3 linked regions of the Homo sapiens genome follow. Changing the gene in region 1 together with any one later gene gives a genetic interaction. Each region holds a gene or a part of one and is shown on either strand. Other genes may lie near its edges.

Evidence for each region.
Region 2: changes in PHF20L1 (region 1) and FBXW7 are lethal when combined (synthetic lethality), as found in Homo sapiens cells (one study listed by BioGRID).
Region 3: changes in PHF20L1 (region 1) and CSK are lethal when combined (synthetic lethality), as found in Homo sapiens cells (one large-scale study listed by BioGRID).

What each region holds. Positions count from the first base shown.
Region 1 is NC_000008.11:132,778,308-132,781,967, reverse strand, and holds part of PHF20L1 (PHD finger protein 20-like protein 1), read right to left. Parts: intron 1-3,660.
Region 2 is NC_000004.12:152,410,462-152,414,121, reverse strand, and holds part of FBXW7 (F-box/WD repeat-containing protein 7), read left to right. Parts: intron 1-1,592; 5' UTR 1,593-1,642; intron 1,643-2,249; 5' UTR 2,250-2,318; coding exon 2,319-2,819; coding exon of another isoform or gene 2,820-2,849; exon of another isoform or gene 2,850-2,962; intron 2,963-3,660. UniProt on the Homo sapiens protein: Substrate recognition component of a SCF (SKP1-CUL1-F-box protein) E3 ubiquitin-protein ligase complex which mediates the ubiquitination and subsequent proteasomal degradation of target proteins.
Region 3 is NC_000015.10:74,799,056-74,801,524, reverse strand, and holds part of CSK (tyrosine-protein kinase CSK), read right to left. Parts: intron 2,254-2,469; coding exon 2,034-2,253; intron 1,114-2,033; coding exon 1,020-1,113; intron 845-1,019; coding exon 779-844; intron 703-778; coding exon 603-702; intron 514-602; coding exon 423-513; intron 4-422; coding exon 1-3. UniProt on the Homo sapiens protein: Non-receptor tyrosine-protein kinase that plays an important role in the regulation of cell growth, differentiation, migration and immune response.

The sequences.
Region 1 (3,660 bases):
AAATATTGTAAAGCTATAATATTTTTAAAAATTAAAACAGCCCACACTACTCAGGAGTTATGTTTGGTCAGTGTAGGAGAGATCCAATTATCAAAAAGCAAATACTGGGACTAAGATGACTGACCTCTTGATGGCTTCTCAGGGCCTGTGTCCATTAGTACTGATAAATAAACCACCAATGAGTGTTCTTATGTAGCTATAAAGTTACTTTGAAAATAAAAATAAATCACTACTTTAGGCCTGGCGCAGTGGCTCACGCCTGTAATCCCAGCACTGTGGGGGACTGAGGCAGGCACATCACAAGGTCAAGAGATGGAGACTATCCCAGACAACATGGCGAAACCCCATCTCTACTAAAAATACAAAAAAAAATTAGCTGGGCATGGTGGCGTGCGCCTGTAGTCCCAGCTACTCGGGAGGCTGAGGCAGGGGAATCACTTGAACCTGAGAGGCGGAGGTTGCAGCGAGCGGAGGTTGCAGTGAGCCAAGATTGCGCCACTGAATTCCAGACTGGCGAAAGAGCAAGACTCTGTCTCAAAAAAATAAATAAAATAAGATAAAATAAAAATAAATAAATCACTACTTAAAAAGGTACAATGCATTTTCAAAGATAAGGTATCTTTCTGATCTGTAAGAATTATACGATATGGTTTATTCAAGCAATAATAACATACTTTTCCTGAGAAACACAGATTGAGTCTTCCTGTTAAATCAAATCTACCCCAAAGCTAAAAGTGAGAGCTTAACTTCAGATTATTTCCACCTACTAAATTTAGAGTTTATCCTTTTATGTCTAGACACATACCAGAAACTATTTTCCTTTTTTATATATGAGAAACCAGCCAGGAGTACACTTTGGGAGGCTGAGGTGGGAGGATCATTTGAGGCCAGGAATTCCAGACCAGCCTGGGCAATACAGTGACACTTCATCTCTACAAAAAAAATTTTTTTTTAAATTAGCCCAGACTTGTGGTGCACACCTGTAGTTCCAGCTATTCAAGAGGCTGAGGTGGCAGGATAGCTTGAGCCCAGGAGGTAGAGGTTTTAGTGAGCCAAGATCACGCCACTGCACTCCCAGCCTGAGAAACAGAAAAGACTCTGTCTCAAAAAAAAAAAAAAAAAAGCAAGAAAAACCTTTAATAGGCATTTTGGGTTCTTCACTAGCACCACTTTCCTTTTGCACTTCTCTTCAAAAGGTGATTTATCAACATGTGATAAGTTAGTTTCTCAGTAATATACTGCTTATTGTAAATGTTTTGAGTATAGAGACAGTAAGCAAGATTTGCATTCCTGCTCCTCCCTATCCAATGCCCATAATAGTTCAAACTACATTTATCTCAAAGATGACTCAATACTTTTCAAAGAGAATTGAATAAATTTGGAAGACTAAGCATTCAATATGGATGCAAAAAATAGAATATGAAAGAAGGGAAAGAGAAGAGTGGGAGAAGAGGGAGAAAAGAAATTTCTGTATATTTTCAATGATTAACTATAATATTTTGCTTCTCACAAGAATGTCAGTTTCTTGTCAAATAATTCTATAATTTTACTTAATATTAATGCAAAAATTTACAGAATTTCCATGAAATGTAAAATGGTCATTTACAAATGGAATAATATGAAGAATTAAGTTTATTATCCTATTTATAAATAAAATGTTAAGAGCACTAATCTCAGAACTTTTGTGTCCCATATAAAATTCAATACATCTTAGTAATTAAATAGTTGGTCCAAGAGCACACCACCTAATACTAAATTTAAGGGGCACCTAAGCCTAACTAGTTCTTGAAACTACTGACATTAATAAGCAAAATTACCATAAGAAAATTATTTTTGTAAATTACCTAGAATACATATATACAATATTCTTAATCCTTTTTTAAATAAGGAGCCACCTGAAACAGAGTGCCAAAATCTTTATATAAATCAGCTTATAAAAATAAAACTGATAACAAGTTTCAGTGATAATATGTGATTATCCTGGCTAATGCTTATTTCCATTAAAGAGAACTATTATTACCAGGGTCATTAAAATTAAATCTAAACTTCATCAGTGAGTACATTTGCATGACACCGCTCAAATAAGCACATATGAATTTTGTGGCAAGAAGATACAACTTTCATTTGTTCTCTGAAATTCCAAGTATTCTAAAAACACAGAATACTCTAAAAGTACATTCAAGCATGGTTTTAAAAGTTCTTTTTTGTAGTCTTTTGAACTACTGGATCATAAATTTAACAGCTCCTAAGTTAGAAAACATTTTACTACTGAAAGAAAATTTCTCACTAATATCAAAGTTATATTAATATCCCTGAAAATTACTGACAGAACTAATCAACTATGTGTTTCTCCAAAACTGGAAGCTAGCTCAACTGCAACACCGTCAGTTGGGAAGCCTAATATATTAATATGAATTAAATAAGTCACAAAGTCAGTAACTTAAAAAATAAATAAATCACTTAAGAGTAATATCAAAGAAGTAACAAGTATTATTTCTTATACCCTTGTATCACACAGACATTCAGTAGTATGCCTTTGGAGTAAAAAGCTTCTCTTGGTCAAATGAGAACCAAGATAGACAAGTGCTGCCTCAACTGGCATTTTCTGTTGCATGGTCTAATGCTGAGTTTCTCAATCATTTTTACCGCCACCCACCCTCATTCCAGTTGTCATTTGGCAATGTCTGGAGACATTTTGATCGTCACTAGGAGAGATGCTACTGCCTAGTTCCCAGGTACTTCCCAAACCCCTCCTAAGAATTACCATGTACATTCTTCACCTAGTGACAGTATCGATTAACCTCCCCATCTCAAATTGTAGCTTCAAACTGTCCTAAAGTGGAGCTCAAAACAAGAGGTCATTAAGCTGGGGTCAGAGATATGTGCCAAGCTCTAACGCCAGATGTTAAAAGAGAGAAACCCCAGCCTGGTCTATACAGTCAAATATTATGACTAAACAAGATTTCTCTGCCTGCCATTGCCAACTCGGGAAGTTGACTTAATACAAATCAATCAAAAGTAAATCTACAAAATGCCCAGTATGGTTTTAAATCAGAGAAAATGTCAAAAAGTCTGGGAAAGTCCAAGAGCTGCTAAACAAGAACTCGCATCAAAATAAACGGGCTTCAGGAGGAGCAAAGGCAGCATCCCTCCCAGAAGCGGAACCCCTCTAATGCCCCTCTCAGGTTAGGAGCCTGCAAATGGCAACAAAAGACATCTGCCAAGACAGCAGAATGAGGGGCCAGTTAACCCAAATGAGGAATACGCTCCTTAGGAGAAAGGAGAATCCTCCTCATTCCTACTCTGGCCCAGGGACCCCTGCATGTAGCTTCCCCTTCTCTCCTTTCCAGATAGTAGTTTTATACCAATTCATCAACTTTTCCTAACCACTGTATAAAGGCTATGTTGGGAGGTGTTTAAATTTACCACTTACCACAATGGCCAGAATAGGGGGAGACACACAAGTTCTGAAAGGACAGCCTATTTTGCACTGGAGACAGTAACAACCTGCCTTTAGGTTAAGGCCCACCAGGGAAAATAGGAGGTTAAGTGTGATTTTGGTTTTAGGTGAGATAATGAATAGTGGAGATGTTTTTGAAAGTGTTCACTATGAAAAAATGCTATGCTAACCATTAATATACTCTGTAGTTTGAAAGACTA
Region 2 (3,660 bases), on another chromosome or scaffold:
AGATATATTTAGGCAGAAACACGCATAAAAAAGGTTATGCATTGATCAGTTGGCAACAGTGTTGTGACCAGAGGCTTGTGAGAACTGTATTTCCCCTAGGAGCAATGGCTCAGTATTTGTTAATTCAGTGGTTGCAGCAATTTTATAGAACACAATTACTGTGAATGGGAATCAACTGTATTTGATTAACGGTGGTGATTTATAGGGACTTTAGATACCAGAAATGTTTCATAATTCCCTTTCTCTGAAATCACTGTTTTAATATGTTTAAATGCATGCATGCAGAGTTGTGATGTTAAACATAATTTTACTGTGGGTTCTGGTCAAAAAAGATGAAATGTCATTGGTTAACTTGAAAGAGACATTATTCTAAACATTATCCTCCAGAAAATTGACATGTACAGGAAGCATATTGAATGCTCAGCAAATAATTTGTTTTAGAGTAATAATCTTTGAGTATTGTAGTGATTCGAGTTTTGGAAAAGAAGGCAGTATCAGTGTTAGAGAATAATATTCTTTCAGGATTTTATGTAGTTACTTTAAGGTGCATGAAAGGAGACTCAGTTGGGTGTTAAATTCTTGTCCCTGCTTTACTTGAAACTAGTAATCTTGAGAAATTTACTAAATCATTTTGAGCCTTGATTACCTTGCCTGCAAAGTGAGGAACATTTTCAATTTAAAATTCTATTTCTTTTATTAGTATTCTTCCTGACCTTGAATCATTTCTATTCCCATCATGTCCAGTTGCCAAGAAAACCATGCAACTTAATGTTGTTTGTTAGCCATCAGATTTTATTTTACTGAACTCAAGTTCAGTCACATCAGTTACCGATAAAATAATAAGTTCTATATTAATATTTGATATATCTTGACATTTTGTATTATGGTAGGAAGAAATAAAAGACCTTCCTCAAATTTTAGGATATGGGCTTCTGTTTGTTGATGTTTGTGTTTTATGATACACTGTTGTAAATCATACTAAAGGTTTTCTCTGAAAAAGACTAGAATTGACAATACTTCATTTGTTAGCAGTTTCAAGTTTTAGATCACGGGTGCATAATTTCTTGTGTGTGCACAACATGTTGGCATTTTATCTGACTTCAAAGATGTCCATATAGATACCAGCAAAGGATAAAATGTAAGAATGAATATCATGAAAAGATGCTGTATCAGATAAAATTCTAGAGCCTAGGTTAAAAAACATAAAGGCAAACATGCTTGATATATAAAAATTGAGAAATATGATAAAAAGAAGTAAGTTTAAAGCATCAGTAATACCACTGCCTAAGATGCAGTTTATTTTGAAATGTTGTCTTCTAGTCTTCATACAGTTTAAAAATCATACTATAATCACAATTTCCAGCATTTTCCCCTTAGCATAATATATTATAACATCCATGTTTTTAAAAATATTTTATGAACGTCATGTTTAGGGATTACACCATATATATCCCATCTCATAGATTCCTTTATATTGAACATTTGGATTTTTATTTACATTTTTATTTACATTTATTTTTATCTTTATTTTTTGCTTTCGTGGATAAACTGCAGTGAGCATCCTCTGTATAAATTTTTTTTTTCTGTTTTAGGATTACTTCCTTAGGATAGATTGCCAGAAGTGGAGTTACTGGGTCAGAGGGTATGAACTTATGAACTTTTTTTTTAAATAAATTTTTTGTTCATTTTCTGTCCAGTCATTTGTAAAAAAATTAAAATAATAATGATTATAATTGTTACCTGCTAGAAAACTGTGTCTGAAGGCAAGATTCTGTGATCAGAAAAGTTTGGGAAATACCCAGGGTAAAAAGCCTTTTAATCTGATTTACCTCAGCATTTCCCAAATTAACTGAACACTGAAAATTTTTTTTGATACACTTCTTAAAATTTTGTGGAAGTTTTATATAGGATATAGTCTATGAACTACTGATGTAAAATTAAAATTGTTTTATTTGCTTGAAATATTATGTTTTATTGGTCAAAGGAATTAAACTATAAATCTTCATGCTAAAAATTATTAAAAGGGATTAGTGTTGTTTACTATGGTTTTTGTGCATGTCTTTATAAAGTCTTATAACTTTTAAAATTGAAATGTTCTATATTGTTTACTAAAGAACATTTTAATGCCTTGGTGGCATCAATACTTTTTTGCAATCATTAATGATATTTAGAAAGTAGACATATAACATGAAAGTAGAACATAATATAGATTGTACAAATCTTGTTTTTTACCCTATTTTCCCCTGCAGAATGTGAAAACCTTTGCATCTTCTGATAGTCTAGCCAAGGTCCAAGAAGTAGCAAGCTGGCTTTTGGAAATGAATCAGGAACTGCTCTCTGTGGGCAGCAAAAGACGACGAACTGGAGGCTCTCTGAGAGGTAACCCTTCCTCAAGCCAGGTAGATGAAGAACAGATGAATCGTGTGGTAGAGGAGGAACAGCAACAGCAACTCAGACAACAAGAGGAGGAGCACACTGCAAGGAATGGTGAAGTTGTTGGAGTAGAACCTAGACCTGGAGGCCAAAATGATTCCCAGCAAGGACAGTTGGAAGAAAACAATAATAGATTTATTTCGGTAGATGAGGACTCCTCAGGAAACCAAGAAGAACAAGAGGAAGATGAAGAACATGCTGGTGAACAAGATGAGGAGGATGAGGAGGAGGAGGAGATGGACCAGGAGAGTGACGATTTTGATCAGTCTGATGATAGTAGCAGAGAAGATGAACATACACATACTAACAGTGTCACGAACTCCAGTAGTATTGTGGACCTGCCCGTTCACCAACTCTCCTCCCCATTCTATACAAAAACAACAAAAGTGAGTATATTCAATATATTGTTAACCTGAGAAACTTTACATATCTATTTTAATTGTAATGAAACTTTCCTCACAGTCTTTGTATTACTAAAAATTAATCTTAAGATGTGTAATAATAAAATGAACTAGTTTTTTGTCTTACAGAAGGTAATGGAAAGTATTACAAGTAGAAATACTGATAATGGGACAATCTGAGTACAAATGGAGGGAAAGTAATTGAGCCTATTACTATGAAAAATTATTAACATCAAATTTTCGTCTAAACCTTGCGTCCCGGGCAGGGATTAGTAGCTTGTGTGGGGTGTAGAGGTTTCGGGTGAAACATGATTTGTGTAAATCAAGTAATGAAGAAACTTTTTATTTACAAAATGCAGCTGCTAGAGTGGGCTATTCACAAGTGTCACTCTAAGGCATAAATTACTCAGAAGTTGCCTCAAATTAGTTCTAGTTATTTATCATTTGAGAATTAGAAATAATGAATATTCATGTAGAGTAGACTTACAAGTTAAACTATGTTTTGGAAAGGAACATTTTAACTTGAATATACTTGTTTTATAGACATTAACATAATGTCTGTGGTAGTTCATCCTCTTACTCCTACTTGCTTATTTCTTACATTTTACAGTGATTTTAGGCCATAAACAATATACAAACTGATTTAACATCGTATCGTTTAACCTAACTTGACTTGGAATGAAGTATCTTACACACTTGGATTAATAATAATTGAAATGCTAAATCATGTTTTACATCTGCTTGTAAAACCTTACTTTCTAAAATGTGTTTGGCCCTAATTTACCTAGCCTATCTGCAAGTCAGATTTTATTTAGCTGGCATGATC
Region 3 (2,469 bases), on another chromosome or scaffold:
CCCCTGGGGGCAGGAAGGACAGACCAGGCCGAGGTCAGACGTGCCCTGCAGCCCTCTCACACAGCACGCTGGGGCCGGGTGGGTGTTGACACTCCAGGGAGGTGTGAGACAGGGAAGGAGTGGGGAGGGGCCAGAACATCCATGCCGGACACTGCTCTGTGTTATTCATGCCTTATCCCTTGACTCTCACAAATCTCTAAGTTGTTATTATCTCCATTTCCCAGATGTGATGCTGAGGCTTGGAGGTGACATGATTTGTCCAATGTTACAGTCAATGAATGGTAAACCAGGACAAAAGCCCAGCCCTGGTGACCTAAAAGCTCACTTGGGGTCGGGGGACTGAGGGAGCAGGGGCCCTAGAGCACAGTGGGGGTTTCGGGGCAGTTGGAAGGCCTGAGTGCCGGGTCTCGGCAGGTGCCCACCTTGGCCATGTACTCAGTGACGATGTAGAGCCCGCCCTTCTCCTCCACGATCACGCCCAGGAGCTGCACCAGGTTGCTATGCCGCAGTTGCCTGGGGCAGGACGAGAGTGGTCAGAAAGGGGAAGCTGGTGCCTCACTCCTAACCTAGGCCAACCTCCCCCCTACCCCGCCCCCACTCACGTCATGACTGAGGCTTCAGCCAGGAAGGCCTGGGCAGTGGCGTCGTTCTTAATGCACTTGACGGCGACTTTGTTCCCTCGGTAATCGCCCAGCATCACGTCTGGGGGCAGAGAGGTGGTCTTGTTCCCAAGTTCGGAGTCCCTCAGAACCCCCCCAGGGGGCCCGGCCCAGCTCACCTCCGAACTCCCCCTTCCCGATGGTCTGCAGCAGCTTCAGCTCCTTCATGTTCAGGGCCCAGCCGCCTGTGGGGAGGGGCCAGTGAGGGCCTGGAGGCCACTAGGGACATGGCTGGGATGACAGAGGCTGACTGGACTATCAGGCACTGGGGTTCTCTGGAGGTTCCTGGATGGGGCAGTGCCAGGAAGCCTGCGTGGGAGGAGGTGGGTGGGCAAGAGGTCTGGGGTGGGGTGCACTCACTGCGGTAGAACTCATCCTGGGCCGCCACTGTGCCCTCCATGACCTTTGGTTTAATGAGGCGCGTACAGAGTCCATCTGCGTCTGAGGTGTAGTGCTGCAGGGTGTGGGGGGCAGGGTGCTCAGAGACAGCCCAAGGTGCCCCATATGCACCGTCCAGGCCTGACCACCAGAGGGCGGCAGAGGCCAGCCCCGCCTAGCCTGGAGTCACTGAGTGGGGAGGGCTCCCCATTTCTGGTAGGGCAGGGGTTAGGGAAGTCCCAGATTATGACGTATGGCCCATTTCCCATGCCACCCTACATGCGGTTGCTGGACACTCAGCTGCTGCTACCACTCTGGGCCCCATGGGTATCTGATGCAGAGGGCAACCCATGGCTCAGTCCTGAAACCAGCCTCTAGCCAGGAGTGCCCAGGACCCCACCCTCACCTGCCACAGGCCAAGCCAGGCCAGTAGGGGAGGGAGATAAGAGTGAATACAGAGGGACACGGGAGGCTTCCTGTGGCTACCGGATGCCAGGTGTGGCCTGGCCAGGGCTGGCAGAGCTGGCCTGGGAAGCTGCAGGGACCTGTGGGCATGTCCGTGCAGGTGCGAGAGCCTCAGGGGCCCTGGCGATCAAGGCGCATGGCTCATGTTTCTGCACACGCTTCTGAGCATGCAGGTCTGTGAGTGGCTGGAGGAAAGTTAGCTCTGGGATCAGACAGACTCAGATTCTAGTCCTGGCACCAAATTATATCTGTGGGACCTCAGGTGGGTCCCCTAACTGCTCTGAACCTTCAACTCCTGGTCTATAAAATGAGGATAAGGCTCCCCTCCTCATGGTGGCACTGTGGGGTCAGAGGTGAGTCCTGGCACGCAGCAGCTGCTCCACCAAGGTGTGAGGAAACAAGGGCTCACAGAAGTTGCCCCACATGGCTGGTCACCACGCAGAAGCAGTGGGGCTGGAGCTAGAAGCCAGGGCCCCAGATGGGTTTAGGGTGTGTGAGGGTGGGAGCAAGGCTCTGTACCCCCCAGCTCACCTCCACCAGCTGCATGAGGTTCTCAAAGTACACCTCCTCGTCGATGCTGAGCTTGCTGGCATGGTACATGATGCGGTAGTGCTCCACCTTGCCGTCGCAGCTCACGCACAGCGTGTAGTCTCCGGGGTAGTTGGTGCTCTCCCGCACCAGGAACAGGCCTGTCTCCGGCGGGTACAGAAGCCGCTCAGCCTGCTCCCGTGTGATCTTGCCGTGGAACCAACTGGGGAGCAGCAGGGCTGGAGGTCATGGTGGCCCAAAGGTACTGACCCTGGCTCCCCTTTCTGAAGGGGTTCCCTCTGCTTGGCACCCGTGGCTCGCACTCGCTCAGTCAGGCATTTGAGGCCCTCTTCTTCTGCTCCCTGTCCCTTCTTTGCCACCCTCCTGCCTCTGCCCCCAGCCCTGCTCTGTGAGGTCCCGCACCCGCACCCTGCACCTC